4 linked regions of the Homo sapiens genome follow. The protein of the gene in region 3 interacts with the protein of the main gene of each other region in a pairwise test. Each region holds a gene or a part of one and is shown on either strand. Other genes may lie near its edges.

What was found.
Region 1: the proteins of KRT18 (region 3) and EFHC1 interact in binary tests that used the Homo sapiens proteins (3 or more experiments, as listed by UniProt).
Region 2: the proteins of KRT18 (region 3) and MACROD1 interact in binary tests that used the Homo sapiens proteins (3 or more experiments, as listed by UniProt).
Region 4: the proteins of KRT18 (region 3) and CCDC146 interact in binary tests that used the Homo sapiens proteins (3 or more experiments, as listed by UniProt).

The regions. Positions count from the first base shown.
Region 1 is NC_000006.12:52,415,552-52,423,349, reverse strand, and holds the start of EFHC1 (EF-hand domain-containing protein 1), read right to left. Parts: upstream 3,009-7,798; 5' UTR 2,940-3,008; coding exon 2,877-2,939; exon of another isoform or gene 2,369-2,876; intron 2,343-2,368; exon of another isoform or gene 2,282-2,342; intron 1-2,281. UniProt on the Homo sapiens protein: Microtubule inner protein (MIP) part of the dynein-decorated doublet microtubules (DMTs) in cilia axoneme, which is required for motile cilia beating.
Region 2 is NC_000011.10:64,009,113-64,016,133, reverse strand, and holds part of MACROD1 (ADP-ribose glycohydrolase MACROD1), read left to right. Parts: intron 1-852; coding exon 853-882; intron 883-7,021. UniProt on the Homo sapiens protein: Removes ADP-ribose from aspartate and glutamate residues in proteins bearing a single ADP-ribose moiety. Inactive towards proteins bearing poly-ADP-ribose.
Region 3 is NC_000012.12:52,944,280-52,952,130, reverse strand, and holds the start of KRT18 (keratin, type I cytoskeletal 18), read right to left. Parts: upstream 3,014-7,851; 5' UTR 2,958-3,013; coding exon 2,541-2,957; exon of another isoform or gene 2,271-2,540; intron 1,804-2,270; coding exon 1,721-1,803; intron 1,382-1,720; coding exon 1,225-1,381; intron 651-1,224; coding exon 486-650; intron 401-485; coding exon 275-400; intron 13-274; coding exon 1-12. UniProt on the Homo sapiens protein: Involved in the uptake of thrombin-antithrombin complexes by hepatic cells. When phosphorylated, plays a role in filament reorganization. Involved in the delivery of mutated CFTR to the plasma membrane.
Region 4 is NC_000007.14:77,258,609-77,265,629, forward strand, and holds part of CCDC146 (coiled-coil domain-containing protein 146), read left to right. Parts: intron 1-386; coding exon 387-460; intron 461-1,400; coding exon 1,401-1,628; intron 1,629-3,512; coding exon 3,513-3,699; intron 3,700-6,747; exon of another isoform or gene 6,748-6,855; intron 6,856-7,021. UniProt on the Homo sapiens protein: Essential for sperm flagellum biogenesis and male fertility.

The sequences.
Region 1 (7,798 bases), on a different chromosome or scaffold from region 3:
AAGAGTATCTCATCTATACTCTTAAGTTTTTCACTAGTCTTCTCATGTTTTTCATCTGATATCTGGGGCCGTAAAAACTGTAGAACCTAGAAGATACGGTTCTGTGAATTTTATTTTTACATGGAATGAATTTATTTTTACCTGTCCCTCTTGTCACAATGACAGTGATACATTCTTACAACTCTTTGGAAAGCAACTGGATGGTATATATTTAAAGTCTTGAACTCAATAATTCTACCCCGACCATTTATTTACGAATATGATTCAGAATTATGAGAAAGAACTATATGCCTGAAGCTGCCCATTACAATGGTAAATGTTGAAGACAATCTAAAAGACAGTCATATGAAGACATGAGTAAATGATCGAAAACTCACTCAATGGATTATGGTGCTGTCATTAAAATATTGATTTTAGAGATCACGTGGCAACCTGGTGAAAATATTTATGATTTAATAAGCCTGAAAAAGCAACATATAAAATTATATGTGTACTGCAATTATAAGCATGGAAATATGTGCATGAAGAGACTGGTTTGGTCCTCTGTATTATACATTTCTAAATTATGTTGATTTTTTACAATGAACACATTTTTATTTAAAAGATTAAATAAAAAAGAGTAGAAAGGCAAATTAGAGGTTATGTTAATGGTTTCCTTTTTCTGTTGTGAGGATACTTTCACAATTACTTATCTATAATATTCAAATATATACATAGATACAATTTAAGATTAATCATAAAAAATATTTTTATGAAAAAAACTTTCTACATCCTAATTGCTTTAGAGCCCAGCCTACCATCTTTCAAGATCTGTACTAACATGAAAGGTACAACAGAATAAACTTCTTTTGCTAAAAGGGTTATAAACTGTATATAACCCATAAAAACAAATGTATGACATTTGTTTTTAAAGGTCATGTATTCAGAGTCACAAGTCAGTTGACAGGGACTGCTCCAGGTATATAGTAAACATGACATAGAACAAAATGCGCTGAGTTGACATCCTCATTGGGTAATTTATGGAACTTCAAGCTCTTCTTCCACCACCAAAGACAGAAGCAACATCAGTGACTTCAGTTTATTTCTTTGTTTTAGACAAATGTCTCTACCATCATTCAGCCATAACTCACAGACACCCCAGGCAAGGCAACCTCGGCCCTTTCCACCCCTCTTGTCCATTATGGTTCACCTTCTGTGTGTCTTTTTTTAAAATCGTTTTCCCACTCCCCTTTAAAAATTTTTTAACTTCTTATCTGCATGTCTTTAGAATTACATTAATACATATTCAGTCCTTCACTGCTGAAGATATACTGACGATGCTTTTCAAATTTCAAATAGGGCAAATTGGTTGACACTTGGCCAGTGTATTTAAAATCTGAAATATGTCCAATGCACAGTTCTTCTTACTTGTAATACAGCAATATGTTTTTAGAGCTTTGCACTTCCATCCACACCTCTGTAATTCCCTGTATCAACTCAGCCCTGTCTATACTCACCAACACCAAAAGCTTAAGCTCATCCTGTATAGGGCAGGCAAGTGCCTACAACATTTTCTAAATTACATAAAACTGAAAAGTCCACTGAAACTAAAAATCTATGATGTTGTGTCTTAATGCAGGGATAATTACAGAGATTCAGAATACAAATTCTCTCACCAAACTTTCGATTTCATTCTAAATTGATTCTTCCAAAGAAAATAAATTGACAAAATATTTTAACTTTGTGAAGCTGGAGAGGAAGGCAAGAGTTTAAAGTATTAAACTATATAAACATAAACTACTGTTAGCTCATCTATGATGATCAGTCTACTGAATCTCATTATTGATTTTTCAGCACATACATTTCAGTAGCCCTGTCAGAATTAAAACAAACCAAATAATTTTAAGAGCTAAACTGTGGCAAGAGTTTAAAAAAAAAAAAGAATCCAAGCTGCTGCTACTTTTTAAAAAATTTTGTCTAGAAAATGCAAATAAAAACACAAGGTTGGGGAAGGAGCAAAACAAAATCTAAACAGGAATCTTTTTACAAAAACGTTAGAATAAAAAGAACAGGGCCGGGGAAGAATAAACAGCAACTAATCAATTCTTGAGGGAACTGGAAAGGAATATCTCTTACAAAGCAGGGAAAGATGCTTTGGGAGGAAGGTGAGCAAGTTTTGGGGAAAACCCGCAACGGAGAAAGAAAGGAATGGGGAGAGGATGGGACTAAATTGTGGAAAATGTAGAAGATGGAGAAAAAAGAATGGGGTTGGATGCAAGCATAAAGAAGAAAGGAAAAAGACCTGGCGGAAAGAAGAGGAGCGGAATCGATATACATACAAAACAGGAAATGGAGCTGGGAGTGGGAGATACTACCGGGTACAGGATTCAGAAGAGGAAGAGGTGGGGCGGGAATGACGGACCTGTGGGAATGAGGTTGAAGGTGCATAGTGGCGGGGGGTTTTAAGGGCGGCGATGGACGGAGACAGGTTATGATGTGAGAGAACGAGCTAGGGAGAGGGCCCAGAGATAGGTTGGGAGTAGGGTGGGGGAAACAGTGATCTAAAGGGACAAGAGGCAGGGGCTTGGAGGAGCAGGGCCGTAAGAAAGAACGCGGCTAACGGGATGAGAATGAAGGCGCCAACACACTGCCAAGATGGAGTGGGAAAAAACTAGAGAGGGATGAGGCGGAGGGCAAAGGATCGGAGAGAGGGGATGAGGATGGCTAGGGAAGAACGGCAGAAGTTCGGCCCAGAATAAAGAACAGGGTCAGGACAGAAGACGTGTTTGGAGAGAAGACAGACTTGAGTGGAGGGGAATGGAGGTGCACTGAGCGGGGAAACCTCCTGGGCTGCTGGAAGGTGGGGACAGGTGGGAGTCTGGCAGATAACTGCTCACCGTAGAGTCCTTAAAGGACGTGCCCGGAAGAAAGGGCAAGCCATGCACGGGATTGGACACCATTGCAGCCGGTACCACCGCCGCCACCTAGGTCCTGCTTCGTCCTCTCCGGTTGCCCAGGCGACAAGCAGTGTTCGCGGGCACCTCCAGGATCCATGGTAACGCTAAACATCCGGAACTCCCACGAGCGGAAGGCGGGGCCAGGAGGCGCAGGCATCACAGGAGGTTTGCGCGTGCGCCATCCGCAGGACTCCGCGTTCTCGCGGTAAGTGGGCCGCGGCCTTGGAGCGCGGCTAGTGGGCGTGGTTGTGTCGGCCCCTCCTCTTCCGCTTCGCCCCGCCCCGCTCCCGGAGGATGAGACGTGGGAGCTGTTGGGTGGCGCGGGGAAAGGCGGGTGTAGCGAGGCGGTAGTTCTCGCTGTGAGATCCGGGGTCCGAGCAGGCCCTTAGATGAGTTGCAGAGAGGGACGTTCCTTCTCTCCTTCCACCTAGTCCTGGCGGACCTCACTGCGCCCCGCCAACGCTGTGAGCTCAGGCACTCTTTTCTCCCCCCTCTGCCCCATTTCACACAGAAGTGTAAATGGTCGGTCCAGTTGGCAGTGCTACTAAACTAGACCCATGCTTCTTGTAGGCAGGGGCCGAGGATTACCCATGATTGTGTTTCTGTTGCTCAGGGATGGTCAATGAACTAATGCAATCATCTCATCCTTAATTCTCCCACTGCCACATTGTATTTTTCCCCTTTTAACTCTTTTTTAAAATCAATCTTTCTCTTTCTTTCTTTCCTTTCTTTCTTTCCTTTCTTTTCTTTTTCCTTCCTTCCTTCCCTCCTTCCCTCCGTCCCTCCTTCCCTCCTTGCTTCCTTCCTTCCTTCCCTACTTCCCTCCTTCCGTAGAGATAGTGTCCCACTATGTTGCCCAAGCTGGTCTCGAATTCCTGGGGTCAAGCGATCCGCCCACCTCGCCTCCCAAAGTGCTGGGATTACAGGCATGAGCCACCGCGCCCAGCTCTCTTTATTCTACCATCAATCCCTTCGGTTAAACACCTTTGTTTTTGTAGGGAAAGCCTTGAATATGTGCTGCAGGGCAGGGTGCACTCTGATAGGTACTTGATTTTTGTTGACTGAAGAGCTGCAGGTTGAAGGGTGGTCACCTCAATCCCTCGTTTGTACCTGCAGCTGCAATGAAAAAGATCAGAACCACTAGGAGGAACACAGCTCCTTCAAAGAGAAAGACTAAGTCTTGGGAAAGAAGCAGATAAGTGAGGTGAAATATTGTCAGCATCATAGGTATAGCCTTTGATGCTTTTTACAAAACTTGCTTAAATTATTTTTTCTTAAAAGAAACATAATCCTATTCCTGAAACATTTTTTTTGGGGGGGGGGGGAGAAAGCTATCCATCATTGCTGAGGAGCTTAAAAATAAAAAGTAATCAAAACCCACGTGCCGAGAGATTTGGATTCATTAGGTCTGACATGGAGGCCAGGAATCTGATTTTTGTAACAGGCGTTTGTGACAAGCCAGTTTAGGAACATGATAGAGTAATAAGCCAGACACAGAAGGCATATCTCAGTGTCACAGGTAGTTTACTGCCAATACAGACAGCAGCTTTACTTTTATTGCTGCTTGTCAGAGCAAATCCCCCTGTTGGGTTTCACTAATTTGTGTGACGCTCAGGAGGCCCAGGACATGAATGCATTAAGTGGCACCTGAGGCAGTTATTGATGCCTGCTTACCATACCCTGCCCAGAGAGTTTCCTTTCTAACTCTTCTCCCCTTACTACATCTGTTTCCTGTTCTTGTCCTTTTTTAAACCTCTTTTTCTTTTTCTGTAAGTACATTACCTTAATGCAGCAGTTTAATACATTTTTTAAAAACTTCAATGAAGTTTTTTTGCCTTTGGTGCTTTTTACAAAACTTGCTTATTTTTTAAAAAAATAAATGTAATCATATTCCTCAAACATTGGTTAGCATTGTGGAAGTTACTGAAAACTTTTAAAGTACCTGTCCGTTGTATTATACCTTAGACACCAACTGAGGATGGATGCCAGTCACTGGAGGAATATGTCAAGATGGCAAGTTTGCTGGGTGCGGTGGCTCACGCCTGTAATCCCAGCACTTTGGGAGGCCGAGGCGGGTGGATCGCCTGAGGTCAGAGTTTGAGACCAGCCTGGACAACATAGTGAAACCCCACCTCTACTAAAAATACAAAATTAGCTGGGCATGGGGGCGCATGCCTGTAATCCCAGCTACTTGGGAGGCTGAGGCACGAGAATCGCTTGAACCCGGGAGGTAGAGGTTGCAGTGAGCCGAGATCGCGCCATTGCACTCCAGCCTGGGCAACAAGAGCAAAACTCCGTCTCAAAAAAAGGAAAAAAAAAAAAAAAGATGGCAAGTTTAACCTTTCAAAGATAAGGCACCTCTCCCACTTCTCTCCACCTCATTGACGCTGATTACCCAGAATCACTGGTTACTGTAATTTTTGCTGACTCTTCATGATAACCTTAAACTGTTAGAAGTTCCATGATCCCTCCCTACCCACTCTCTTATTAAAAGTAAATTTCATGGCATTAGGACACACTTTGAAGAGCTCTTCTTGACTAAGTGCATGGTTGCACTTGGATCTATATTCCTGGGTTGGGTAGGGAAGGAGCGTGTGGAGCTGGAAAGGCTGAGTCATGCCTAAGCCTATTGTCCATTATCGCATCTGTTTCTATTTGAGGAGTGCCCTCTGCTCATGCCTTTCTTTCCAGAAAAGCACGCCAGTTAAATGGCTAAGGGGTGTGTTTTAACTACTTTCGGACCCCAGAAATGCATGAAGACAACTTCTGTTGGTCTATGGCCTCCTAAAAATGCTATCATCTCTGAGGAGGGGAAGTCAGACGTACTGCATTAGTGTTAAAAGGCACAGGGACAAGTCTGTAAAGAAGTGGGGCGGGAGGAAAGGCAGGGCTTCAGAAAGGTACCTGGATCCTCAGAAGGTCTGCTGTGATTAAGAGTTTGTATCCCAGTCGGGTGCAGTGGCTCATGCCCGTAACCCCAGCACTTTGGGAGGCCAAGGTGGGCAAATCACTTGAGGCCAAGATTTTGAGACCAGCCTGGCGAAACCCCATCTCTACTAAAAATACAAAAATTAGCTGGACGTGGTGGCACATGCCTGTAGTCCCAGCTACTCAGGAGGCTGAGGCAGGAGAATCGCTTGAACCGGGGAGGCAGAGGTTGCAGTGAACAGAGATCATGCCACTGCACTCCAGTCTACATGACCACTTAGCATGCATTGCACTTCAGTTTGTACCCACCATTTCCCACTTAGTGGAATATATAAAAGAGGGCAGGAAACTGACCATTCCTGGCAGCTAAAGTAGGAAATGCCATGATTGAAAGGCCATTGCATAAAGCCTGACTCAGAAGACCACAGAAATATTGCATGATTTTAGCAGGTGTTCCAAAACTTGGGGAATGGAAAAAAATTGAAAGGTCAGACTGCCAGGAGCCAAGCCTGAAAGAGGGCCTTGTGGGCTGGGTAATGTCTTCCAGGCAATCCTGATGGGACAGGCCATAAGCAGTCAGCTAAAATAAACCTCTCCTCTTTCAGCATTTTGCCCAGAGCTGACTTTACCCAGAATTTGTTTTCAAAACTGTGACATTCTCATTCTATAATACCTAAATTCACAGGACAAAAAATACCAAAGGGCTGTGTGTGCATGTGTCCTGGATTACTTCTGCAGTGATTTGGTGTTCTGCTTCCCTCTGCTGGGTAAAAATGGTACAGCAAAATTTCTGGAAAAGAAAACAACCAATTACATACCTGCAGGTTTTGCAGGTACTTGGGGGTGTGGTGAGCACGTGAATATGGCCAGGGGGTGTCCCTCAGTCAGAGTGCTCTCTAGCATTCCTTTCCATCACTCCATGGCCTCTGAAATATTTTATCTAAAAAGAGGGCCCAGTCATCCACTTCGATCTTTGCAAAGTATGGGAAAAGGAGAAACATCCAGTGATTAGATTTAGGATCCACAGGAGATCTTCATTTGACACAAAAATTACATCATTTGGGTCTAGACTATTTTAGTCTTGATGTGGGCTCCTGCCTGGGGTTTGGAAAAACCTGTATTTCTGCTGCTTTTTCCTCCCTTAAGTCAAACCTATTCAATAGCTTTAGCTGATTCCGTTGGAATTCTCTTTCCTTGTCAAAGCTGATGGAACATACTTCACAGGATATAAGCGTCATAAGAAGATGGTCTTCATTTTTTCATTGCCATTTTCCTAACTCTCATCACAGTGCCTAGCACTACATAGATGTCCATTAAATAGTTGGAAAATTACTGACCTACTACAGTTAATGAATGAATGACTCAGCGGTCACGTGGGAAAGTATTTTTCAAACTGCTGCAGATTTCCTTTAGCAGTTCTTCAAATCAACTTAATAGGTTGTGACCACAACGAGAATTATTTTTAAAAAAGAATAGAATAGAAACTATCCAGATGCATTCCATTTTGTTTGTAAGAATAATTCAGTGAAAGTTTTTTCAAGATATATACATACATATACATTCATAGTGAGAGTATATCATGATCACAGTCAAAATGCTTGAAAAGTAATTGACACAGTCCGGTTAGCTCATTTTACTAATGAGAAATCTCCAGACCAAAAGAGATCAAGGAACTATCAATTAATGACTGGTTCCCAATTGAGTATTTCTTACACTCCACCTCAATCCTCTGACATCTAGGAAAGACAGTCCTCATTTAGCTCAGGACAGATCATTGATCTTGGCATCCTGCTTGTGAGACATCTCTGGCATAATAAAGCTCTCAATAGTACGGAGAAAGAGAAGTGTGAGAATGTTGTGGTAGTAACATTGACTAGAGTTTTAGATTCCAAATGTGGACAAGAAGTGAATTCATTAATTCAGGTAAATGGCAA
Region 2 (7,021 bases), on a different chromosome or scaffold from region 3:
GTGCGCAGGAAGGTGGCAGCCACAAAGCCGTCAGTCCAGCTCTGCCTGGCAGCACTACCCCTAGTCCAAGGAGGGGGCGGGGACCCAGGTCTTCCTGCAGCGGGGCTCAGAGTTGAGGACCCCTCTCCATTGACCTTCACACCAGCTGGTGAGGTGGGGCTATTCTCCCACATGGGGAAAATGAGGCACGAAGCCACATGGCCCCAGTCACCCCGCTGTTGATCTGGTTTTGGCTCCAGTGGCAGCGCTCCAGGCCCCTTACCCGGCTCGCCTTGTCCCTCTCGCAGTTGGACGCCCCCGCCCCTGCCCCCTTCTGCGCCCCCTCAGCACTGCTCCGCGTTCTCAGTCCTCCAGCTCTGGCCCTGGGCAGCGCTTAGCCCGGTTGCAAAGGTGCAGTTTGCTTCCTAGTGGCTTCAAGGCTATGCCCTGCCGGAAGCTGTGAGCCCTGGGGAAGGGGACCTGTCCTTTCCTCCCCACATCTCTGCACCAGGCCTGGCGCCGACCAGCCTCAGGAGATACTGTGGGCGAAACAGTGAAGGAATGAAAGGGCCGTGGCGGGGGCCATCTGCCTCTCTGGACCCCCCCATGCGTCTGCGTCCGGGTGAGCAGGCAGGCCCTGATAGCTCTCCTGTGTCCCCAGCCCTACCACCCTACAAACCCCAGGACCATGAAGAACCTCCTCCCTCTTCACCATCGTCTACTACCGCCCCGGAGGACTGGGAAGACCCTGTGCCCAAGTCTGAAGACCTAGCTGGCAGCCCACTCCCATCTTGACATCACCCTCCCCTCAAGGCTGATACTCCCGCCGCAGCCCCTTCCCCACTGATCTGCCTTTGTCTCTCTCTCTTGCAGCCAACAGCTCCCTGCTCGGAGGCGGTGGCGGTGAGTGGACCTTCTGTCTTGGTGGGGGTGGGGTGTGGCATCTCCCCTGCTGGGTCTGCTCCTCCCCTGCCCCTCGCCCTCGGTGCCCATCTCACTGCAATCCACCTTCCCCACTGTCCTCACAGGGTGCCTCCCTTCCCCAGAGCTGGAGACCTGGATGGCAGGCCTGGCACCCTCACCACCAGGCAACCTGGGCCAGCTCCCCACCCCTCTGAATGCAGGCCTCCTGCTCTGTAACTGGGCAGGGGCCACAAGTGTGGTGGAAAAAACCCAGCCCTGACCTTGATCTCCCTGTGACCTTGGGCAGCTCTGTCCCTTTTGGCCTCAGTTTCCCCACCTGTGAGGGCAAAATTATCATCTCTACCCTGCCCTTGGACCTCGGGCTCCGCAGCCAGGACAGGTCTCACAAAGTCAGGGAGAGAGCTGCCAGCTCTCAGCCCTGGGATGTCTCTGTGTCTGCCATTGTTAACGACCACCACGGAGCAGGGGTTCTGGAAGGGCCAGGCAGGCAGGAGGTCAGAGGTCAGGGTGGGCCTGGCCGCAAGGGATACAGGCCAGGTCACAGATACCAAGCGGGCGTGTCCCTGTACCCCCAGCACCTGCCTCCATGGCCAGCCCACCTAGGGCAGACCACACCAGCCCCTCAGCCCAGTCCTGCAGCCCCCCAGCTGGCCAGGCTGCCCGCTGTCTGCACAGGCAGCAGGATGATTGGTGAGCTAGGGGCCAGGGGTTAATGTGCCGTCGGATAAATCCCGGGGGCCGTGTTTACGGCAGCGGTGGCAGGGCCCAGGCCAGGTTTTAAAAGGGGGAAAAATAAAAGGGGCATAAAGGTCAGGAATAAATAAGAGCAGCATTAAGAGCTGTCGGTGACCAGCCAGGATGCAGAATGGGGGTCTGTTTGTGGCTGAGATGTTTTCCCTCCTCCCCATTCTCCTCTAGCTGTCCCCATGGAGGTCACAGCTCCCCAGAGGCCTCACAGAATGAGGGGCTTTGCCGGGGACTGTGGTCCTGAAAACAGACCACCTAGGACCCTCTTCCGAAGCCTGTCCTTTTGGAGGACACTTTGCAGACCTGACACCTGCATGTCCCACCCACAGCACCCTGCCCTTCCTCCGTTCATTGATCACCCCTGTGTGCCGGGCCCCGAGCTGGGTGCCAGGACAGGTACTGCCGGGCACAGATGGGCCTGGTCCCTGTCCCCTGAGCTCCCAGTGCAGATGAGAGCACCACCAAGACACAGGGTGATCTGTGGTGTGGGGGTGGGGGTGGGAGTGGCACCATAGGAGCTTGATGAGGAGTGCCTGTCCCTGCTTGGGCATCAGGAAGGCTTCTAGAAGGAGGTGGTGCCTCCTCTGCAATCTGAGGGATGCGTAGGCATGAGCCCAGCGAAGAGTGCTGGGAAGGGTGTCCCGGGCAGAGGGAACAGCGCAGGCAAAGGCCTGGAAGTGGAGGAGAGGGAGGCTCTGACACAGGAATGACTGGAGCCCAGCCAAGAGGTGGGGAGATGGGAGATGGCCCAGGATCCCAGACAGCCTGTGAGGAGCGAGATCTTTAGCCATTCAGTTCAGGAAGATAAAGGATCACAAAGGGGGTGGGCCTTTCTGTCCCACATCAGCTCATCGAGTCTCTTCTGCCCACCACCCTGCCAGGGTTCTTGTCTCACTCAGGGCCTAGGCCAAGTTCCTTAGCATGGCCCGTTAGGTCCCCAGTCACCTCTCACAGTCACCTCCGCACTGCCACCCTCTCCACTTTGCTCCGGCCACCCTGGCCTCCCTGGACAGGCCCCGCCCACTCCTGCCTCCGGGCCTTTGCCCTGGCAGTTCCTTCTGCCTGCAATGCCCTTGCTCCAGTTGTCCACGCGGCTGCTCCGTTCACTCCGACAGGCCTTGACTTGAATACCATCTCTCAGGGGGGTCCACCCTGGCCCCTAGCTGAAATTGCAGCTGCCTCCCCTGCCCCATGCTGGCACTCCCCCGGCCCCCACCCTGCTGTGGTTTTAACTTTTCTGAGCACCTGTCTCCTTCTAATGTGCTGTATAATTTACTTACATATTGTGTTCCTTGTCTTCTACCCCCTGAAAATGAAAGACTGTATCTGGGGCTGGCACTTATAATAAGTGCTCAGTAAATGTTTGTAATCCCAGCCTATAATCCTAGCACTTTGGGAGGCCGAGGCAGGAGGATTGCTTGAGCCCAGGAATTTGAGACCAGCCTGGGGAACATAGTAAGACCCCATCTCTACAAAAAAAAATCAACTAACCATGCTAGCATGTGTGCCTGTAGTCATAGCTTGGGAGGCTGAGGTAGGAGGATCACTTGAGCCCGGGCGGTTAAGGCTGCAGTGAGCCATGATTGCGCCACTGCCCTCCAGCCAGGGTGACAGAGTTAGACCCTGTCTCAAAAAACAAGGAACAAGGGGCCGGGCATGGTGGCTCATGCCTGTAATCCCAGCACTTTGGGAGGCCAAGGCAGGTGGATCACCTCAGGTCAAGAGTTCGAGACCAGCCTGGCCAACATGGTGAAACCCTGTCTCTACTAAAAATATAAAAATTAAGGCCAGGAGCGGTGGCTCACACCTGTAATTCCAGTTCTTTGGGAGGCTGAAGTGGGCAGATCACGAGGTCAGGAGTTCAAGACAAGCCTAGCCAACATGGTGAAGCCCCGTCTCTACTAAAAATACAAAAATTAGCTGGGCATGGTGGTACACACCTGTAATCCCAGCTACTCAGAAGGCTGAGGCAGGAGAATTGCTTGAACCCCATAGGCAGGGGCTGCAGTGAGCCAAGATCACACCACTGCACTCCAGCTTGGGTAACACAGCGAGACCCTGTCTCAAAAAAAAAAAAAGTTTATTGAATGAATGAACTACAGGTAAAGGTGGAGATGACCCTACACATTAAGCAACGGACTTACCCAAGGGCAGCTGGTGGAAACCAAAGATGTTTTGGCAAATCCAGGAGTGGCTCACAGATGGCCTGTGACCTCACTCTAGGAAGTGGAGGGGCCCTGCCCTGGCCACTCAGAGGCATGGCAGAGGTCTCTCTGGTTCTCCTTCCAGCATTTAGGGGTGCGGAGCGGCTGGCACAGGCCTCTCACACAACCTGACTGATGGAGAGATGGACGGGGCGGGTGCCCCTGGAGGAAGTGGGCCCGGAGTCCAACCTTTTAACATGGGCTGAGATTTATGGAGCCGCCGCCAGCACTTGCTGGGACTGTCACTCTGCTAATGTGATTGGAACACAGTGGAGGTGGTGGGGAGGGGGCTGTGGTAGGGACGATGCTGGGGCTGGAATGGAGCCCAGCCTGGTCCCCGGAGGTGCTCTGCCCTCCCCTATACCCCTGCTCCTCCCACCATCCTTTGAGTTCATCCAGTCCTAATCGCCTACCTGCCCAAGTTAGACCCCATCTGACTCTGCCCAGACACACCCATCTTCCCGTGGGGTCCCTGGACATCCCTCCTACAGGAGTTCAGGCCTCTACCCGCGCCCCTCCCATGACCAGCCACCCATTGTTCGAACACGCACAAGGGCCATCCTGCCTGCCCTGGCCACTCTGCCCAGAACCCTGATGCACTGCCCTGCTCCATGTCTTCGTCCCGCAGCCCTGATTCCCTGCTTGCGTTTTGTGTTTGTTCTTCATTGCCTGCCTCCCCACCGGAATGGACTCCCCCGAGGGCAGGGTTATGGGAGATTCTGAGCTCCTAGAAGAGCTTCCTGCTTTGAAGTAAATAATTAACATCTGTGGTGCAGTGAGTGGCACCCTCTGTGTGCCCTGGGAGCCAGGGACACAGCTCTCAGTCTGGCACCCACATCCCATCCCCTCACCCTGGGGACTGCCAGTCTGCCAGTCCCTCAATGGAGAGGGGCAGCAGGCAACACCCTGGCCAACACCCCAATCAGCATCCTAGCCAACAGCCCAACCAACATGCCAGCCAACACCCCAACAACATGCCAGCCAACACCCCAACCAGCATGCCAGCCAACACCCCAAACAATACACCAGCAAACACCCCAACCAACACCCCAACCAACACCCCAGCCAACACGCCAGCCAACACCCCAACAAATACCCCAACCAACATGCCAACCAGCATCCTAACACCCCAACCAACTCGTGCCAACCAATATGCCAGCCAACACCCCAACCAACATGCCAACCAACACCCCAGCCAACACTTCAACACCCCAACCAACATGCCAGCCAACACGCCAGCCAACATCCCAACCAACACCTCAACCAACACACCAGCCAACATCCCAACCAACACCCCAACCAACACATGCCAACCAACATGCCAGCCAACACCCCAACCAACATGCCAGCCAACACCCTGGCCAACACCCCAACCAACATGCCAGCCAACACCCCAAACAATACACCAGCAAACACCCCAACCAACACTCCAGCCAACATGCAAGCCAACACCCCAACCAATACCCCAACCAACATGCCAGCCAACATCCCAAACACCCCAACCAACTCGTGCCAACCAATATGCCAGCCAACACCCCAACCAACATGCCAACCAACACCCCAACCAACATGCCAGCCAACATGCCAGCCAACACCCCAACCAACACACCAGCCAGCACCCCAACTAACACCCCAAACAACACTCCAACCAACACCCCAGCCAACACCTCAAGCAACATGGCAGCCAACACCCCAATCAACATGCCAGCCAACATCCCAACCAACACATGCCAACCAACATGCCAGCCAACGCCCCAACCAACACACCAACCAACACCCCAACCAACACCCCAGCCAACACCCCAACCAACATGCCAGCCAGCACCCCAACCAACACCCCAACATGTCAGCCAACATCTCAACCAACACTCCAGCCAACACCCCGGTCAACACCCCAGCCAACATCCCAGCCAACACTCCAACCAACACTCCAACCAACACCCCAACCAACACCCCAAACAACATACCAGCCAACACTCCAACACCCCAACATGCCAGCCAACACCCCAACCAACATGCCAGCCAGCACCCCAACCAACACCCCAGCTAACACTCTGGGCAACACCCCAACCAATATGCCAACCAACACCCCAGCCAACACACCAACCAACACCCCAGGCAACACTTCAACCAACACCCCAACCAACCCCCCAACCAACACCCCAGCCAACCCCCCAACCAACACCCCAACCAACACCCTGGGCAACACCCCAGCCAACACCCCAGCCAACACCCCAACCAACAACCCAGCCAACACCCCAACCAACACCCCAACCAATACCCCAGGCAACAACCCAACCAACATCCCAGCCAACACCCCGGCCAACACCCTGGTGTGGGTAGTGGCGTGGAGTTCCTGCCAGGAGGGGCCGGCGCAACTGGGGCTCAGAAGATGGGGCTGGGACTGGCCTGCAGGGCTTTGGGGCCCGAGCCCACTGTTTTTACGGCAAATGTGCGGTGATTTAGAGCAGAAGAGGGCTGCAGTCTCAGGGGAGCAGAGAAGGGAGTCTCCCGGGCACCCCCAATGCAGTGAGAGCCCCCAGGGGCTGCTGGGGCTAAAGGGACTTAACCTGGAGGGCACAGGACTCCTGTGCCTGCCTCACTCTGGGCCTGGACCCCCACCCACCACACCCTGGGGCCGAACTAGATGGTGCTGGCAATGCAGTGAGTCCTGGGGAAGTCCCCCTACTCCCTTACTACCCATTCTTCCCTGGAGCTCTCTCTGAGTTGAGGGAGCTATGCCAAATGCTGGGACTCAGGGCTTGGCTCTGCCTTCAGGGAGACCCAGTTTGGTAGGAGGCTTCCCAGCAGAGGGAGCATTTGACTTGGGTCCCGAAGGCTAAATAGGAGTTCTGCAGGTAGAGCAGGATGGACGGGCCCCCCAGGGGGAAGGCCTGTGTCTGCTTCAGGAAGGCTTGATGGGCTTGGGGCAGCTGCCAGCCTTCCCGACAGACCCTTTGGCCTGGTGTCTGCCAGGCCCCCTCCTCTCTCCCACCTCCCTCCTGGAAAGCTTTTACTGGCTCAATAAAAACATTTTTTAAAACACTCTCCTATTGTATGGTAAGAAGGGAGGCAGGTCCTAAATCAGGATGGGAATCGACAGAGCCCTGACGCCCGTGTCTCTCCTGTTTATTAGGACTGAAATGTTTACTCGGAGATAAGGAGCC
Region 3 (7,851 bases):
CAAGCTGGCCTTCTGCAGGGGCACAGAGAGGAGGGGCAGGGTGAGCCCAGAGTCCCAGGACTGCTCATCCCTTCACTTTTGGAAACTTTTTTGGGCACCTGCTATGTGCCAAGTACTGGGATAAGGGATAGGAGTGGAGGGAAATGCAAAGAGGAAACTGACTCTTTCTGAGCTAAAGGAACTCATGATATGAGGGATAGGATTTGGGTTGAGACAGGGTTGGGTCTGAGGCCAAGTGAAGGAGGAGCTGGGCAGGTGATGTGAAGGCACTCACCAGATTTCTCATGGAGTCCAGGTCGATCTCCAAGGACTGGACTGTACGTCTCAGCTCTGTGAGCGTCGTCTCAGCAGCTCCAACCTCAGCAGACTGTGTGGTGACCACTGTGGTGCTCTCCTCAATCTGCAGGATGGGGACAGTCCATCAGGCCCCTCATTCCGTCTGCCTCCCTCCCACACCTTGGCAGCCATCCCCTCCCCTCACGCACCTGCTGAGACCAGTACTTGTCTAGCTCCTCTCGGTTCTTCCGAGCCAGCTCGTCATATTGGGCCCGGATGTCTGCCATGATCTTGGCGAGGTCCTGAGATTTGGGGGCATCTACCTCCACGGTCAACCCAGAGCTGGCAATCTGGGCTTGTAGGCCTTTTACTTCCTAAAGGTGACAGGGGCAAAAGTGAGGAGGGTTCAGGGTCAGAGCTCCAACAAGGCCTTTCTTCTGTGATTGCCTCTTCTAGGAGGCCTACAGTTGGAGAAGAGACAGGAGGAACCCCTTGGCTTGCACTCAGGGCAATGCCAGTTCTGGCCTTTCTACTCCAGTGGGTAGAAATGCCACCCACTCACTGATGGTTTCTCTGTAACTTCACCCTGTTCCTTTATCCACCCTCCCCTTCACAAACCTGCTCCTTCTACCATCTTTTAGGAAGCGCTGCCAACTCCATCTGCTGTCATTCCTTTATCACCCCCAGCTCCTAGTGTTAGCTGCTTCTACTTCTGTTCTCATCTCATTTTCTAACCCATATCATTTTGACCTGTAATTCAGGTGAGCCAGGGTGTACTCGACCCCCTGAGAATGCTCTTCATCAGAACGGTCTTATTTAAGAAGAGCCCAGGCTGCTATTTCTAAACGTCTTAGCAAGGCTACTTGCAGTTGGTTTGTCTTGTCTATTCTCCGACCCAGACTTCTCTTGGCCCCTCAATCCCTGGCCTGGCCAGTGGCCCCTGCTTGCCTCTTCGTGGTTCTTCTTCATGAAGAGCAGCTCCTCCTTGAGAGCCTCGATCTCTGTCTCCAGCTGCAGTCGTGTGATATTGGTGTCATCAATGACCTTGCGGAGCCCATGGATGTCGTTCTCCACAGACTGGCGCATGGCCAGCTCTGTCTCATACCTATAGGAGTGGAGGTGATCAGAGGGGCCCCTATCTCTGATCCAGAACCTTCTCAACTCATGCCACCTACTAAGAGAAGTTCTGTGCCCATTGCAAACCAGCAACTTGAGTCAGCAATTAGGTGGTAATCCCCTGAGCACCATTCTTGGCACTTGGAGGACAGTATTCTTAAACGGGGTTATACAAATGAACAGTTAAATGAATACACTGATGGACCCTGACTCTCATCCACCCACACCTAACAGGATCCCACTGTGAGCCCCTAACTGACCCAGCCTGGGGAGCAGATCCTTCTTAGCTCCACCCCTGGACCCCCAGCTCTCTAGCCCCCAAACTTACTTGACTCTAAAGTCATCAGCAGCAAGACGGGCATTGTCAATCTGCAGAACGATGCGGGCATTGTCCACAGTATTTGCGAAGATCTGGAGGGATTGTAGAGAGAGGTTGTTCCATGAATAGAAAGCCAGGGATGGGTGGGGTGAGTGTGTAAAAAGTGTTATGTATCCTAGTGAAAACTTCCTGGTCCCAGGAATAGCCAGAGGCTCTCCCTGGACACCTATCCCTTTTCATCTAGCCCCACCCCATTCCCTCCTTTCCTGGATTCCCAGATCCCAGCACTCTGCCCCTCTTGGGAAGCCTCAGCAGGCTGGCTAGCTGGCTGGCCTGCCTGCCCAGAAGTGAGTCGCTACTAACAAGTCCTCTTCCTGGCCCTCTCCTGGCATTTTTTCCCTAGTGCACCTGGTCACTCTGGGCCCCCTACACCCTGGATTGGCTCCTCCCAAAGGAAGGCCTCTTGTTTACTCCTAGATGACTCAGCCTTAGCCACATCCGCTTAACCCTCCAATAGTCCCCATTCCGCCAGAGCCAGTGTCTCCTCCTCTTTACAGGCCTTTCCTTACCTCCCTCCATGCTGTCCACTTCCTCTGTAAAGCTCTCAACCCTGTCCCCTTCCCCCTCTCTCCTGGGAAAGAGCCCTCCCATGCCTAGCTGCTGCTCTTAGGGACCCTGTGGCTAGGTGCGCGGATGGAAATCCAGGTATGCCCAACCCCCTCCCGGTGGAGTAGGGGTTGGGTGGTTATGGAATGACGGAAAGAGGCAAAGGAGTGTATAATTGGAGGGTCAGACAAGGCTGGGAGTTGAGGTCCCTCCTACCCCTTACCTGAGCCCTCAGGTCCTCGATGATCTTGAAGTAATGGCTCCAGTCTCTGACCTGGGGTCCCTTCTTCTCCAAGTGCTCCCGGATTTTGCTCTCCAGCCTCCGGTTCTCGGTCTCCAGGCTCCTCACTCTGTCCAGGTAAGAGGCCAGGCGGTCGTTCAGGCTTTGCATGGTCTCCTTCTCGTTCTGGATGCCTCCCATTCCTGCCAGACCCCCGGCTATCCCGGTGGCCAGGCCCCCGGACCCCATGCCGCCCCTGAAGCTGGTGGAGCGGGACACGGAGATCCGGGAACCAGAGCCCCCAGCGCCTGCATAGACGCTGGCCGCGCTGCTGACCGGCCGGGCGCCGTAGCTGGGCGCCTGGACAGAGCCCAGGGACCGGTAGTTGGTGGAGAAGGTGGAGCGAGTGGTGAAGCTCATGCTGTCCGGGGAGAGAGAAAGGACAGGACTCAGGCTTTGCGGACGACGGTGGCGGCCTGCGCGAGCCGCGCGACCCGAGTTATATCGCAGAGTGAGGCCCCGCCCCCGCCCCGGAGCCGCTTCGGAAGCCGGAGCCACAGGTGGACGGCTCGGAGCCCGCGCCCTCCGCCCCGGGCCGCTCCGCCCCGGGCCCCACCCCCGCGCCCTCCGCGCAGCCCTGCCAAGCCCCGCTCACCCCCCAGAAACGGGGTGGCCAACCGGGCATGGACACGGACAGCAGGTGTTGTTGGCCCTCGAGGCTGCTTTCAGGGCAGGAAATGACGTTATTATGCTCTTCTCCCCCAGGTGGAGGAGGTGCTGGCGAGTTTGAAATTTGGGAGTCTTGACCGGGCGCAGTGGCTCACGCCTGTAATCTCAGCACTTTGGGAGGCCTAGGTGGGCGGATCACGAGGTCAGGAGATCGAGACCATCCTAGCCAACATGGTGAAACCCCCTCTCTACTAAAATACAAAAAATTAGCCGGACGTGATGGTGCACGCCTGTAGTCTCAGCTACTTGGGAGGCTGAGGAAGGGGAATCGCTTGAACCTGGGAGGCGGAGGTTGCAGTGAGCCGAGATCGCGCCACTGCAGCCTGGCGACAGAGTGAGACTCTGTCTCAAAAAAAAAAAAAAAAAAAAAGAAAAAAGAAATTTGGGGGTCTGGTGGTGTGCGGGTGGAATGGCCTGTGAGTCCCTCTAGCTGTCCTTAACCTGCAGCCCAAATTATCCACTTGTGGAGGGGATCTTGGGGGCATCCTGGAGCCCCAGGAGTCCCGGGGAAGAAAGGCTGGGAGCTGGAGAAGAGGAGGAGAAGCAATGCCCAGCCTCATAGCTGCTTGCTTACACACTCACACCCCAGCTGCACCTGGCTCCCAAACACTCCTCGCCTGCCCACGTTTCCTCACACACACTCACACCCGAATCATACAGAGGTGTGCTCTCAAATGCACACACACATACATTCACTCAGCAAATAGGTGCAGACTCCCCAAAACAAACCCAGTCTCTGAGCCCCCTCCACCACCCTCCCCTCTCCCGACCTCACTCCCAAGGGCCTTGCCTCAGTGGAACACTGTGATTTGGACAGGGAATGCATCCTGACTTCTGCACACCGGTATATCACCTTTCCTGCATCCTTAATTAAACAAATCCTGAGCATTTACAATTCAACCAGTATGCATTCAGCACCTACTGTGAGCCAGGCCCAGTTCTAGGAGCTGGGAGAGAAGGGCGGTGACAAAAGAGACCAAAAATCTCTCACAGAGATGATAATGTGTCCCACATCGCCGGGCACAGTGGCTCATGCCTGTAATCCAAGCACTTTGGGAGGCCGAGGCGGGTGGATCACTTGAGGTCAAGAGTTCGATGCCACTGCACTCCAGCCTAGACAACAGAGCAAGACTCTGTCTCAAAAAAAAAAAAAAAAAAAAAAAATTTGAGACCAGCCTGACCAACATGGTGACACCCCTTCTCTACTAAAAATACAAAAATTAACCAGGCACAGTGTGTGCCTGTAATCCCAGCTACTCAGGAGGCTGAGGCAGGAGAATCGCTTGAACCCAGGAGGCAGAGGTTGCAGTGAGCCAAGATCGTGCCGTCGCGCTCCAGCCTGGGCAACCAGAGCGAAACTCTGACTCAAAATAAATAAATAAATAAATAAATAAAAGTAATGTGTCCTACATCGCATGGGGCCTGAGAGGACAGGCAGGCACTCCTAGGACCATCATAGCAGCGACCCAGCCCTGGTGGCCAGTGCCCCTCCCCTCTTTTCTAGGACTTTTCTCCAAGCCAGTCCTTCCCCTGTCCCCCCTTGTAAGGGCTGTCTGGATTAGAAGCCTGGCCCCAGGGGACTGCATCCTCCAAGATGCTCTCCCCAGCCTCTGTGTGAGAAGGATGGAGGTAGGGAGGCTTTCATGCTGCCTGCCCCCTGAAGCTGAATGACCATCCCTGCTGAATGAAGTGTTGGGGGGAACCCTTAGGTGTTTGGCCTTCAAGTTTGTCAGCTCCAGCAGCTCGTTTTTCTGGCAGGGCCTGGTATGACACATTTGGCTGTGTTCTTTGCTCTGGAGTGGACCTATTGATTCTTATCGAGCTACCAGCTGAGGGGGAAGGGGAGGACAAATAGTAGGGCAGACCTGGGAGAGAAGGGACCCTGGAAAAGCCTGGCCAGTGGACCTGCCAGGTGGGAGGCAGAGCACAGATAAAGAGCCTGAGCCTGGATTGTTCCTGATCTGTCACCTAATGGTGGGGAGAGCCCCACAGTGCTCAATGGGAGCCAGCCAGGGGGCAGTCAGGGTGGAAGCTGGCCAGGGGAGGGTCGGGGCCTGCTGAAGGCTGGGAGGCAAACGGGATGCAAAATAACATACAAATGAATGCCCACTGGTTTTGCATACAAGGCTTCTGGGAGGTAAGAGGTTCCAGTCAGAGGGGTCTCTCCTGCTTTCACCTTTATATTCCCCCACTGGATTCCAGAACTGTCAAGTTGGGCAGTATTTTATAATAAAGTATGTGGAGTCAACAAGCTACGTACTGCCTTTTACTGTTATTGCTAAGCTTTAAGTCAGCCAGCCTGGATACTTTGCTAGCTGTGTAACCTTGGGGAAGTCACCTAACTCTGAACTTCAATTTCTTCACTTGTACAGGGAAAACAGTAAGACCTGTCCAGTCTATTTCCTCAGGTGGCAGTGAATGTGAGTGTAAATTGTCACTCACTCATTCATCAAACAAATACTAATTATTTGTACTGGAGCCTTCCTTCAAAGTAAGGAAGGCTTCAATATATACAGGAGGGCAGATAAAGGGGGTCAATTTAATTCGAAAGACGGGCTCAAGGGGTTTGAAGTCTGTCTCTCTGAGTCATTTAAAAACCCTGGGGCACTTTGAAATCTACCAGCAATCAAAACAGATTCTAGAATTTTTCTCCAAGCTAATTCCCAGGTCCTTGTCTGATTCCTGCCCCACCCCAACTGCTAGGAAACTTCTGGGACCTGTGGAGGTGCAGCGTGGGGGCTGGAGAGGGAGAGCTGCCAGCTAGACTTTATCTCTCCTACTGATGTCGATGGCCACATTCCTGACTTCTTGCAGCATGGGGCAAATACCGACCTCGGGCTTCCAGCACCAGCCTGCCCCTTTCCACCACTTCCAGATTCCTCTGTGGCTCAGGGCTTTTTCACTTTGTCAGAGAGCCTCTTGGAGAGCTGGGGTGAAGGTCTCGGCCTCCAGATTCCCAGCACTAGGGTTCTGGGGTGGGGGTGGGAAGCAAGGTGGAAAGGGGGATGGCGTGATTGTGAGGACAGTCCCGGGAAAGGGTGGAGCAGGAGGGGCCCTGGTGAGAAGCTCCCAGAACAGACACAAAGAGTAATGAGCCTCGGCAGGGGGGAATCCGGAAAGAGGGGAAATGGTTCTCCACCCACCATCAGTCCTGCATTCCAGCGTCCAGCAGAAGGGGAGTGGGAACCTGTGAGGCAGGTTTAACTTCAGAGTAGACTCAGAGATGACCCGATAGGGGTGGGTCAGCTCTTACTGCCCACTCCACATTCTCCCACAAAGGGCTTGAGCTGATGGCTCTGGGGAAACTAGGTGGTGGAGAGATGAGAGGATTAGGGAGGATTGGAAGGCCTGCAGTCCTTCCGCCTTTGCTTTAACATTTAGGCTGGAAATTCCTTGCTCAGCCTGGAGGAGGGAGGTGTTCGGAACAGCAACTGAGGTGTAAGGATGGGGTCTATACACAAAACAGGGAGAGACTGATTCCCATCCTCTTCTTTAAAGACTGAGGGTGACTCCAGTGTGTTGGAGACAGTGAGAAGGCCCTGTGGTGGGGTGGGCTGGAGGGAGGAAGGGATCGCCTGGGAGGCTCCCCTGGGCTCCTTTCAGCTACTCTCAGTGGAGGGTATACCCATGCAGGGGGCCCTCCCACAGGAGAAATCCCAGGGCTGCTGAGTTAAGGGTAGAGCTGTTGAGACAGAGGGAGATCTGGGGTAGAACCCAAAGGAAAAGGAATCTGGGGTGGAATGGGAATCCTCCTGCCCAGCCCTGCATCTGGCACATAGGTGGAGCTCCGTAAATACTTTAGGTTTAAGTAATTAATAAACATGGGGTGCTAGGAGAGGTCAGTGGGGGTCATCAGAAAGTGCAGTCAGGTAGACTGCAGAGAGACAAGAGGTGGGGGCAAGGGTACAAGCTTCAGAGGCAGCTGCGGAGCAGGGGGAGGATGCGGGTGGCAGCTGGGTGCAGGACCCAGTCTGATATCAAGACTTCTGGAATTTCAGCACCCTATTTGGAGTCCCTGGCACTGCCTGTGGAGGTGGGAACGGGTTCTCAGGGCTTGGGCCAGGCCCTCTTCCCCAGGGGTGGGAGAGTCGAGGAATGCCCTGACACTTAGTATCATTGCTTCGGTTGGGTTTGTGCCCTAGGGGTTATTTTCCAAGGATAAAGGAAGAGGAAGGGTCAGCGCTGAGAAGCGTGTGGCTGCCCAGAAACCTCCAGGCGCTGAAGCTCAGAGAAGTCGGGGAACCTGGCCCTTCTAGGAGCCCCTCAGCTCCCTGGCCCAGCCCCACCAGGAATGGCCTTGCCTGTGCTTATGTCCTTTGCCCATTCTGACCCTGGTGCTGTTGGCTTCTCCTCAGGTGCAACCCCAGTATCCCAATGCCATATCCCCCAGCCTATCGCCTCACTCAAATCTGCCCAGAGATTAGGGGAGGGCAAAGGGATGAATAGGGCACTTGGTGTCAAAAGACCTGGATTCGGCCAGGTGGCTCATGCCTGTAATCCCAGCACTTTGAGAGGTTGAGGTGGGAGAATCGCTTATGGCCAGGAATTTGAGACCAGCCTGGGCAGTATAACAAGACCCTGTCTC
Region 4 (7,021 bases), on a different chromosome or scaffold from region 3:
CCTGAGAATGTAGGCTAGGCTAAGCTATGATTTCAGTAGGTTAGGTGTATTAAATGCATTTTCAACTTAAGGTAGTTTCAACTTACAACGGGTTTATTGGGACGTCACTCCATTGTATGTGGAGGAGCATCTGTACCTCCATAAAGGGAATCTGGGCAGAGGACCAACAGTATTTGCTACACTCAGTTACCTCCTCTTCAAAATGATAACAAATATAGCTCTCTTACAAGGTCACCGTGAGTATTAAATGGGATAATTAAAGCACACAGGGCAGATGGTAAGTATCTACATATTGTAGTTCCTTTCTCTCTCATATTTAATTTTCTTGTCTTAATTGCTTCTAGCCGAAGACCGCATAATTTAACATGATTTCGTTTCTTTACTAGGATGAAGTGGCCCACCATCAAACCATTCCAGTACAAATTGGAAAAGAGATAGAAAAAATAACACGCAAAAAAGTGTATGATTTAATATTTTTACTTTGAATCCCTGCCAGTCCAAGTTATGTGTGCACACTAGAACAAGAGTACTAACCATTGGACACATTAAATTACTATGATAATTTTAGAAATTTCTGCTTTGGGCCCTGTCTAGGTTGTTTATATCAAGTTCTTTAAAAGAAAGTAATGCACCAAATTTCTATCATTCATAGTATTTATGGCTTAATTATGGGTCAAGATTCTGTTGCCAATTTATAAATCATATTTTTATGGAGAAGTTCAATTGACTTTAACAGAGCGGTGCATGGGATAAATTATGCGAACTGGTTAGAATTTCATAGTCTAGAAGTATATCAGCCAGGCAGCAGCCCAAAGCCCAAATAATAGTAACTCCCCACTTTGCCACCCATTCATGTGTATAACACTCCTCAGATATTCAGAGTAGATTGGGAGGCAGAGGTCATTGAGGAAATTCTCAGTGTTTAAGGAACCAAAAAAGATAAAGATTTTAAGTGAAGATACAAAAATTCTGGAAAAATAATATAATTACTCTGGTGACTAATCTTAAGGGGAAAAATTAGGCAGGCACTAGTAACTGTTCTAAAAACTAAGCTCACCAACATCAAAGTTGAGAAACTCAGGTCAGTTTCAGGAGGCTGGTCAGGACGAGGGTTGAATCACAGGAGATGGTAGCAAATTGGGATCTGCACAGAAAGTAGGGAGGCTGGGCAAATTCCTGCCTTCCGTGGCACTCAGTGGAGATACCCTCCAAGTCCCACCCATCTGTGGTCTTTACCCACTGCTGAGATCATTGAATTTATGACTATCTCTTCTGCTGCATGGTTAGAAAGCAAGAATAGGTAAAGCCAGCATGGCCTCAAAATAAGGCAAGTGTGTGTGTGTGTGTGTGTGTGTGTGTGTGTGTGTGTGTGTGTGTGTGTGTGTGTGTATCCCCTACAGAGAAATGGAAAAGAAAAAAATTGTCTTGGAACAAGAAGTCAAAACGCTAAATGACTCCCTAAAGAAAGTTGAAAACAAGGTTAGTGCTATAGTGGATGAGAAGGAAAATGTAATAAAGGAAGTTGAAGGCAAACGAGCCTTACTTGAAATCAAAGAACGAGAACATAACCAATTGGTCAAGCTATTGGAATTAGCCAGAGAGAATGAAGCAACTTCATTAACTGAAAGGTTAGTTATATTTATGTATGTTATGTTCTGTCATCTAAATTTTTCTTCAATTTATATTTGAGAATTCAAAATCTCACTTTGGTGTTGAGTTAATAAATATTTAAAAATAATTTTAAATCAACTTTTACCCTTAATATATTATCAAATAAAGCACTTTGAAGTATTTTTTGATACTTTACTCAAATTTTCTCAATTTTCTGTTACCAGATTTTCAGGATATAATCTGTTGTATGTTGTAAGTTTCTGAATGTGCCTTTGGAAAATTTATCACTGGAGTATGTTATGTTCAGGGATTTTGCCAACAAATGAATGATACTTCTTAGGCCATCTTGACTTTTTTCTAACAGAAGCAATTTCGTGGTGTAATTCCCTAGGAGAGTTTTATGTCCTGCTTTTTTGTTTGTTTTTTGAGATGGAGTCTTGCTCTGTCGCCAGGCTGGAGTGCAGTGGCACGATCTTGGCTCACTGCAACCTCTGCCTCCCGGGTTCAAGTGATTCTCCTGCCTCAGCCTCCCGAGTAGTTGGGACTACATGTGCGCACCACCACGCCCGGCTAATTTTTTTTTTTCTTCTCATTAGAGACAGGGTATCACCATGTTGGCCAGGTGGTCTCGATCTCTTGACCTCGTGATCCACCCGCTTTGGCCTCCCAAAGTGCTGGGATTACAGGCATGAGCCACCGCGCCCAGCCTATGTCCTGCTTTTAAGTAAAATTTCAAGGAAACTGGAGGCTTCTATCTCTGCCAGTCTGTTATTTTTTTGGGGGGTGGGGGTTATAAGACTGCAGTTCTAAATGATACCAACTCACAAACCTAGTTGCCTTTGGCATTATTTACAATTTATGATTCCAACATGAGAATAGTCATGTGTGTATATACTGAGCATGCTGTCTTTTATTAAACTTTTAAGTTCAAGGTTACACATACAGGTTTGTTATAGGTAAACTTGTGTCATGGGGGGTTGTTGTACAGATTATTTTGTTATCCAAGTATTAAGCCTAGTACCTATTATTTTTCCTGATTCTCTCCCTCCTCCCATCCTCTACCCTCCAAAAGGCTCCAGTGTGTGTTGTTCTTCTCTATGTGTCCATGTATCCTCATCATTTTGCTCCCACTTATAAGTGAGAACATGTGATATTTGGTTTTCTGTCCCTGCATTGGTTTGCTAAGGATAATGACCTCCAGCTCCACCCACGTTCCTGCAAAGGATATGATCTCATTCTTTTTATTTTATTTTTTATTTTTTATTTTTTGAGACGGAGTCTCGCTCTGTCGCCCAGGCCGGACTGCGGACTGCAGTGGCGCAATCTCGGCTCACTGCAAGCTCCGCTTCCCGGGTTCACGCCATTCTCCTGCCTCAGCCTCCCGAGTAGCTGGGACTACAGGCGCCCGCCACCGCGCCCGGCTAATTTTTTGTATTTTTAGTAGAGACGGGGTTTCACCGTGTTAGCCAGGATGGTCTCGATCTCCTGACCTCATGATCCACCCACCTCGGCCTCCCAAAGTGCTGGGATTACAGGCGTGAGCCACCGCGCCCAGCCCTCATTCTTTTTTATGGCTGCATAATAGTCTGTGGCATATGTACCACATTTTCTTTATCTGGTCTACCATTGATGGGCATTTAGGTTGGTTCTATGTCTTTGCTATTGTGAATAGCACTGTGATGAGCAAATGTGTGCATGTGTCTTTAGGATATAACAGTTTATATTCCTTTGAGTATATACCCAGTAATAGGATTGCTGGGTCAAACGGTAGTTCTGTTTTTAGGTCTTTGCCAGAAGAGATTGGGAGCCAATATTCAGCATGCTGTCTTGATAAGTTTTGAAAAACATTTAGGACAGCTGATAACAAAATCATTTTCTTCTTCTTCCTTTACCTGGAACAGAGGGATCTTGGATCTCAATTTACGCAACAGTCTCATTGACAAGCAGAACTACCATGATGAACTTTCTCGTAAGCAAAGAGAGAAAGAACGAGATTTTCGAAATTTAAGAAAGATGGAACTGCTCTTGAAAGTGTCCTGGGATGCACTTAGGCAAACTCAAGCACTGCATCAAAGGCTTCTATTAGAGGTGAGGGCTGTAAACTACCATCTGATTTTTAAGCTCGGTGCTAACTTTTGAAGTAAAAATATTTTAGGAAGTTGTTTTTGCTGCCAGTAGAGAAGAAGAAAATACAAGTAACAGAGAAAAGGTAATTTTCAAATGCGTCAAGCCTATTATGAAATCTATAGTCCTATAATGTTTCGTAATCTCATTTTTCTAACCCAAGATTAGAGAAATGTCTTGTTTGGATCAGTCATCCTTCAGCCTGACCTGGGGAAATGACTGGACTATCCAGTTCTAGAAGAGCTAGAGGGTTCACTGCAGAATGGGGCCAAGTGGATCATTATTTTCACCAGTTGAAGGAGTCAGATCCGGCATGGTGTCATGGCAGACTATAACAGTGAAGGACTAGATCAAATTACATAGACATAAATGATCAGCAGCCTGCACTTCCGACTAGCCAAGGGCAATCCAGAACCCAATATCAGGCTGCCTGGCTAATTCTGTGCAGGGTCAGAGGTGTACTCCAGTCAGAAGATGCTCAAGACAACTGTTACCTGCCTCTGTGTTCCCAAGTGAGGGGTCTGGTTGCCCCTGGCTCTCTTTTCTCTCAGAGGGCACTCCCTGTGGTAAATGACCAAGCGCCACTGAAAGGGCAGAGGATCCTTGAGAGGGCTTCAGCCTTGTGCTAGAGCCTTCCTTGAGCGAAAAAGGGGTCAGCCTCTGAGATGAAGCAGCTAGGTGTATAGAAACCTTCCCCGTTCTCTTCAGGACTGTCATGCTCCAGAACCTTATGGAGGGTCATGACCTAAGAAATTTGAACAGGAGTTTCCAGCTGTGGTAGACACCTCTGATCCTAACCTATGCCTAGTTCTCCTCTCCTCCTGGGCACATAGAAAGTTTATACTTCCTTGCACCCTTTGCAGTTGAGCAGAGTCATATAACTCATTCTGGCCAGAGGATTGTAGACAAAAGTGACACGTGTCACTTCCAGCCTATAACATCTAATTGCCAATGTGAGACCCTCTAGCTGTTTTTCCCTCTCCTGTGGTAATTGTGGAAGTGCATGACACCATGGAGGTGCTGTAAAATGGGAGCAGCCGGGAATGCTGAGCCAACAGTGGTCTCAGAGTCCTCTTGATTGCCCACCGGCTTTGTAGGAAACAGCTTTGGTAGTTCGAAGCCATGATATTTGGAGGTCGTTTATTTCTGTAGCATAACTTAGCCTGTCCTGACTGAAAGACCAACCTTAAGCAACATGTGTGAAAAAATCGGTTAGGGTTATGAGTGTTACGAACAACTAGGACTTGGACTTCGTCTTGCTGTCAGATGGCACTTATAATCTTTTCAAGAAGTTCTCTGGTTGGGCACAGTGGCTGCTGCCTGTAATCCCAGCACTTTGGGAGGCCGAGGTCGGCAGATCACCTGAGGTCAGAAGTTCAAGACCAGCCTGGCCAACATGGTGAAACCCTGTCTCTACTAAAAATACAAAAATTGGTCGGGTGTGCTGGTGCACACCCATGATCCCAGCTACTTGGGAGGCTGAGGCAGGAGAATCGCTTGAACCCGGGAGGCGGAGGTTGCAGTGAGCTGAGGTTGTGCCACTGCACTCCAGCCTGGGCAACAGAGCCAGACTCCATCTCAAACAAAAAAAGGAAGTTTTCTATCTCAGTGAGGCAAAATGTACTTTTATAGTCTTTTGCAAAACCAATAAAACATGTATGTTCTACTATATATGTGTTTTCACAAATAACTTTTATATAACTGTTATATATAGTATATTTATGATATATATACTTCTTATTTAATCATTTTATTGCAATTCCAACAGGTAGATTTATTTGTATCACTCTGAAATCTCTTTAACTCTAGTAGTACTTTTTGCCTTAAAATATTATTTTGTCTGATTTTAGAATAATAACATCAGTTACACTATCTTTTGGCGTGTTAGATTCTGCATGGTATTATTTACTTTGATTTTTTTTTCTTTTTCTTTTTGGAGACAGTCTTGCTTTGCTGCCCAGGCTGAAGTGCAGGCACCATCTCAGCTCACTGCAATCTCCACCTCCCGGGTTTAAGCAATTCTCGTACTTCAGCCTCCCAAGAAGCTGGGATTACAGGCATGTGCCACCAATACACAGCTAATTTTTGTATTTTTAGTAGAGACAGGCTTTCACTATGTTCGCCAGGCTGGTCTCAAACTCCTGACCTCAAGTGATCCATCTGCCTCGGCCTCCCCAAAGTGCTGGGATTACAGGTGCGAGCCACCGCACCCAGCCCTATTTACCGTCACTCTTTCTGTGTCCTCATTTTGGTGTGTCTCATATACACAGCACATACTTTTCAAAATCTAGTCTGATAAGTTCTGCCTTTTTAAATTCTTGTATTTAGTCTAAAAATTAATACTTAATGTAATTGTGGATATATTTGTCCTTATTCTGTGATATTACTTTTGCTTTCTCTGTATCCCATCCGCTTCATGTTCCATTTTCTCTCCCACATTTCCTTCCTTGGGATTAATCAACGTTTCATATAGTTCTGCTATCCTTGTTTTAGATATGCATCAGTTAGTTTTACATTCTATTTCTATTCTTTGGGTGGTTACCCTGAAGATTACAACAGTCATCTTTGACTTACTAGAGTCAAATATAAGTTATTTGTATTTTTACTACTTCCAAGACAGTGCTAATACCTTTGATGATTTTAACTTTACTAACCTTTGCAACTCTTATGCCCTCAAACATATTTTCACTCCAACTTTCCAAGTTATTCTTGTTGGAAGCATTGGTTTACTATAAGCTACTCCATCTTAGCCCGAAGCACAGCACGTTAGGATGTTAAATTGGAACTTTGGGCAAACACAGACCCTGTGGCCACCCCTCCTCAGTCATAGTAAGATTTATAGTAGACCGCAGTTATAATGTCCATTCAAAGTACTGACGGAAACCTCAGTGTAATGAGTAAGACTCTTAAAACCAGCAAGTGTTGCTTGTACTAATAAAACAATTCCTGTTTATTGATCAAATAACTGTTCAGTAAGATTTCTTTAAACAATGGGATAAAATGTATAATTACCTTTAATAACCAATTTTGGTAGTTATGGTAGTAAGTAAAGTTAATCCATTCAATATGCTTCTAATGCTGAATCATCAAAGCATTCTTAATATTGAAGAGTAAGGTAACCTAAATAGAAGCAATAATTTGTCTCATAAATTAATACTTCTTAGCTCAAGAAGGGTTATACATTGGTAAAAATCACAAGATTGGTTCTAAAAGACTACACACAAAAAAACAGACTTAGGTTCACTTCTACCAGAAAATCTAGATTAAGTACCATAGAAGGGACACA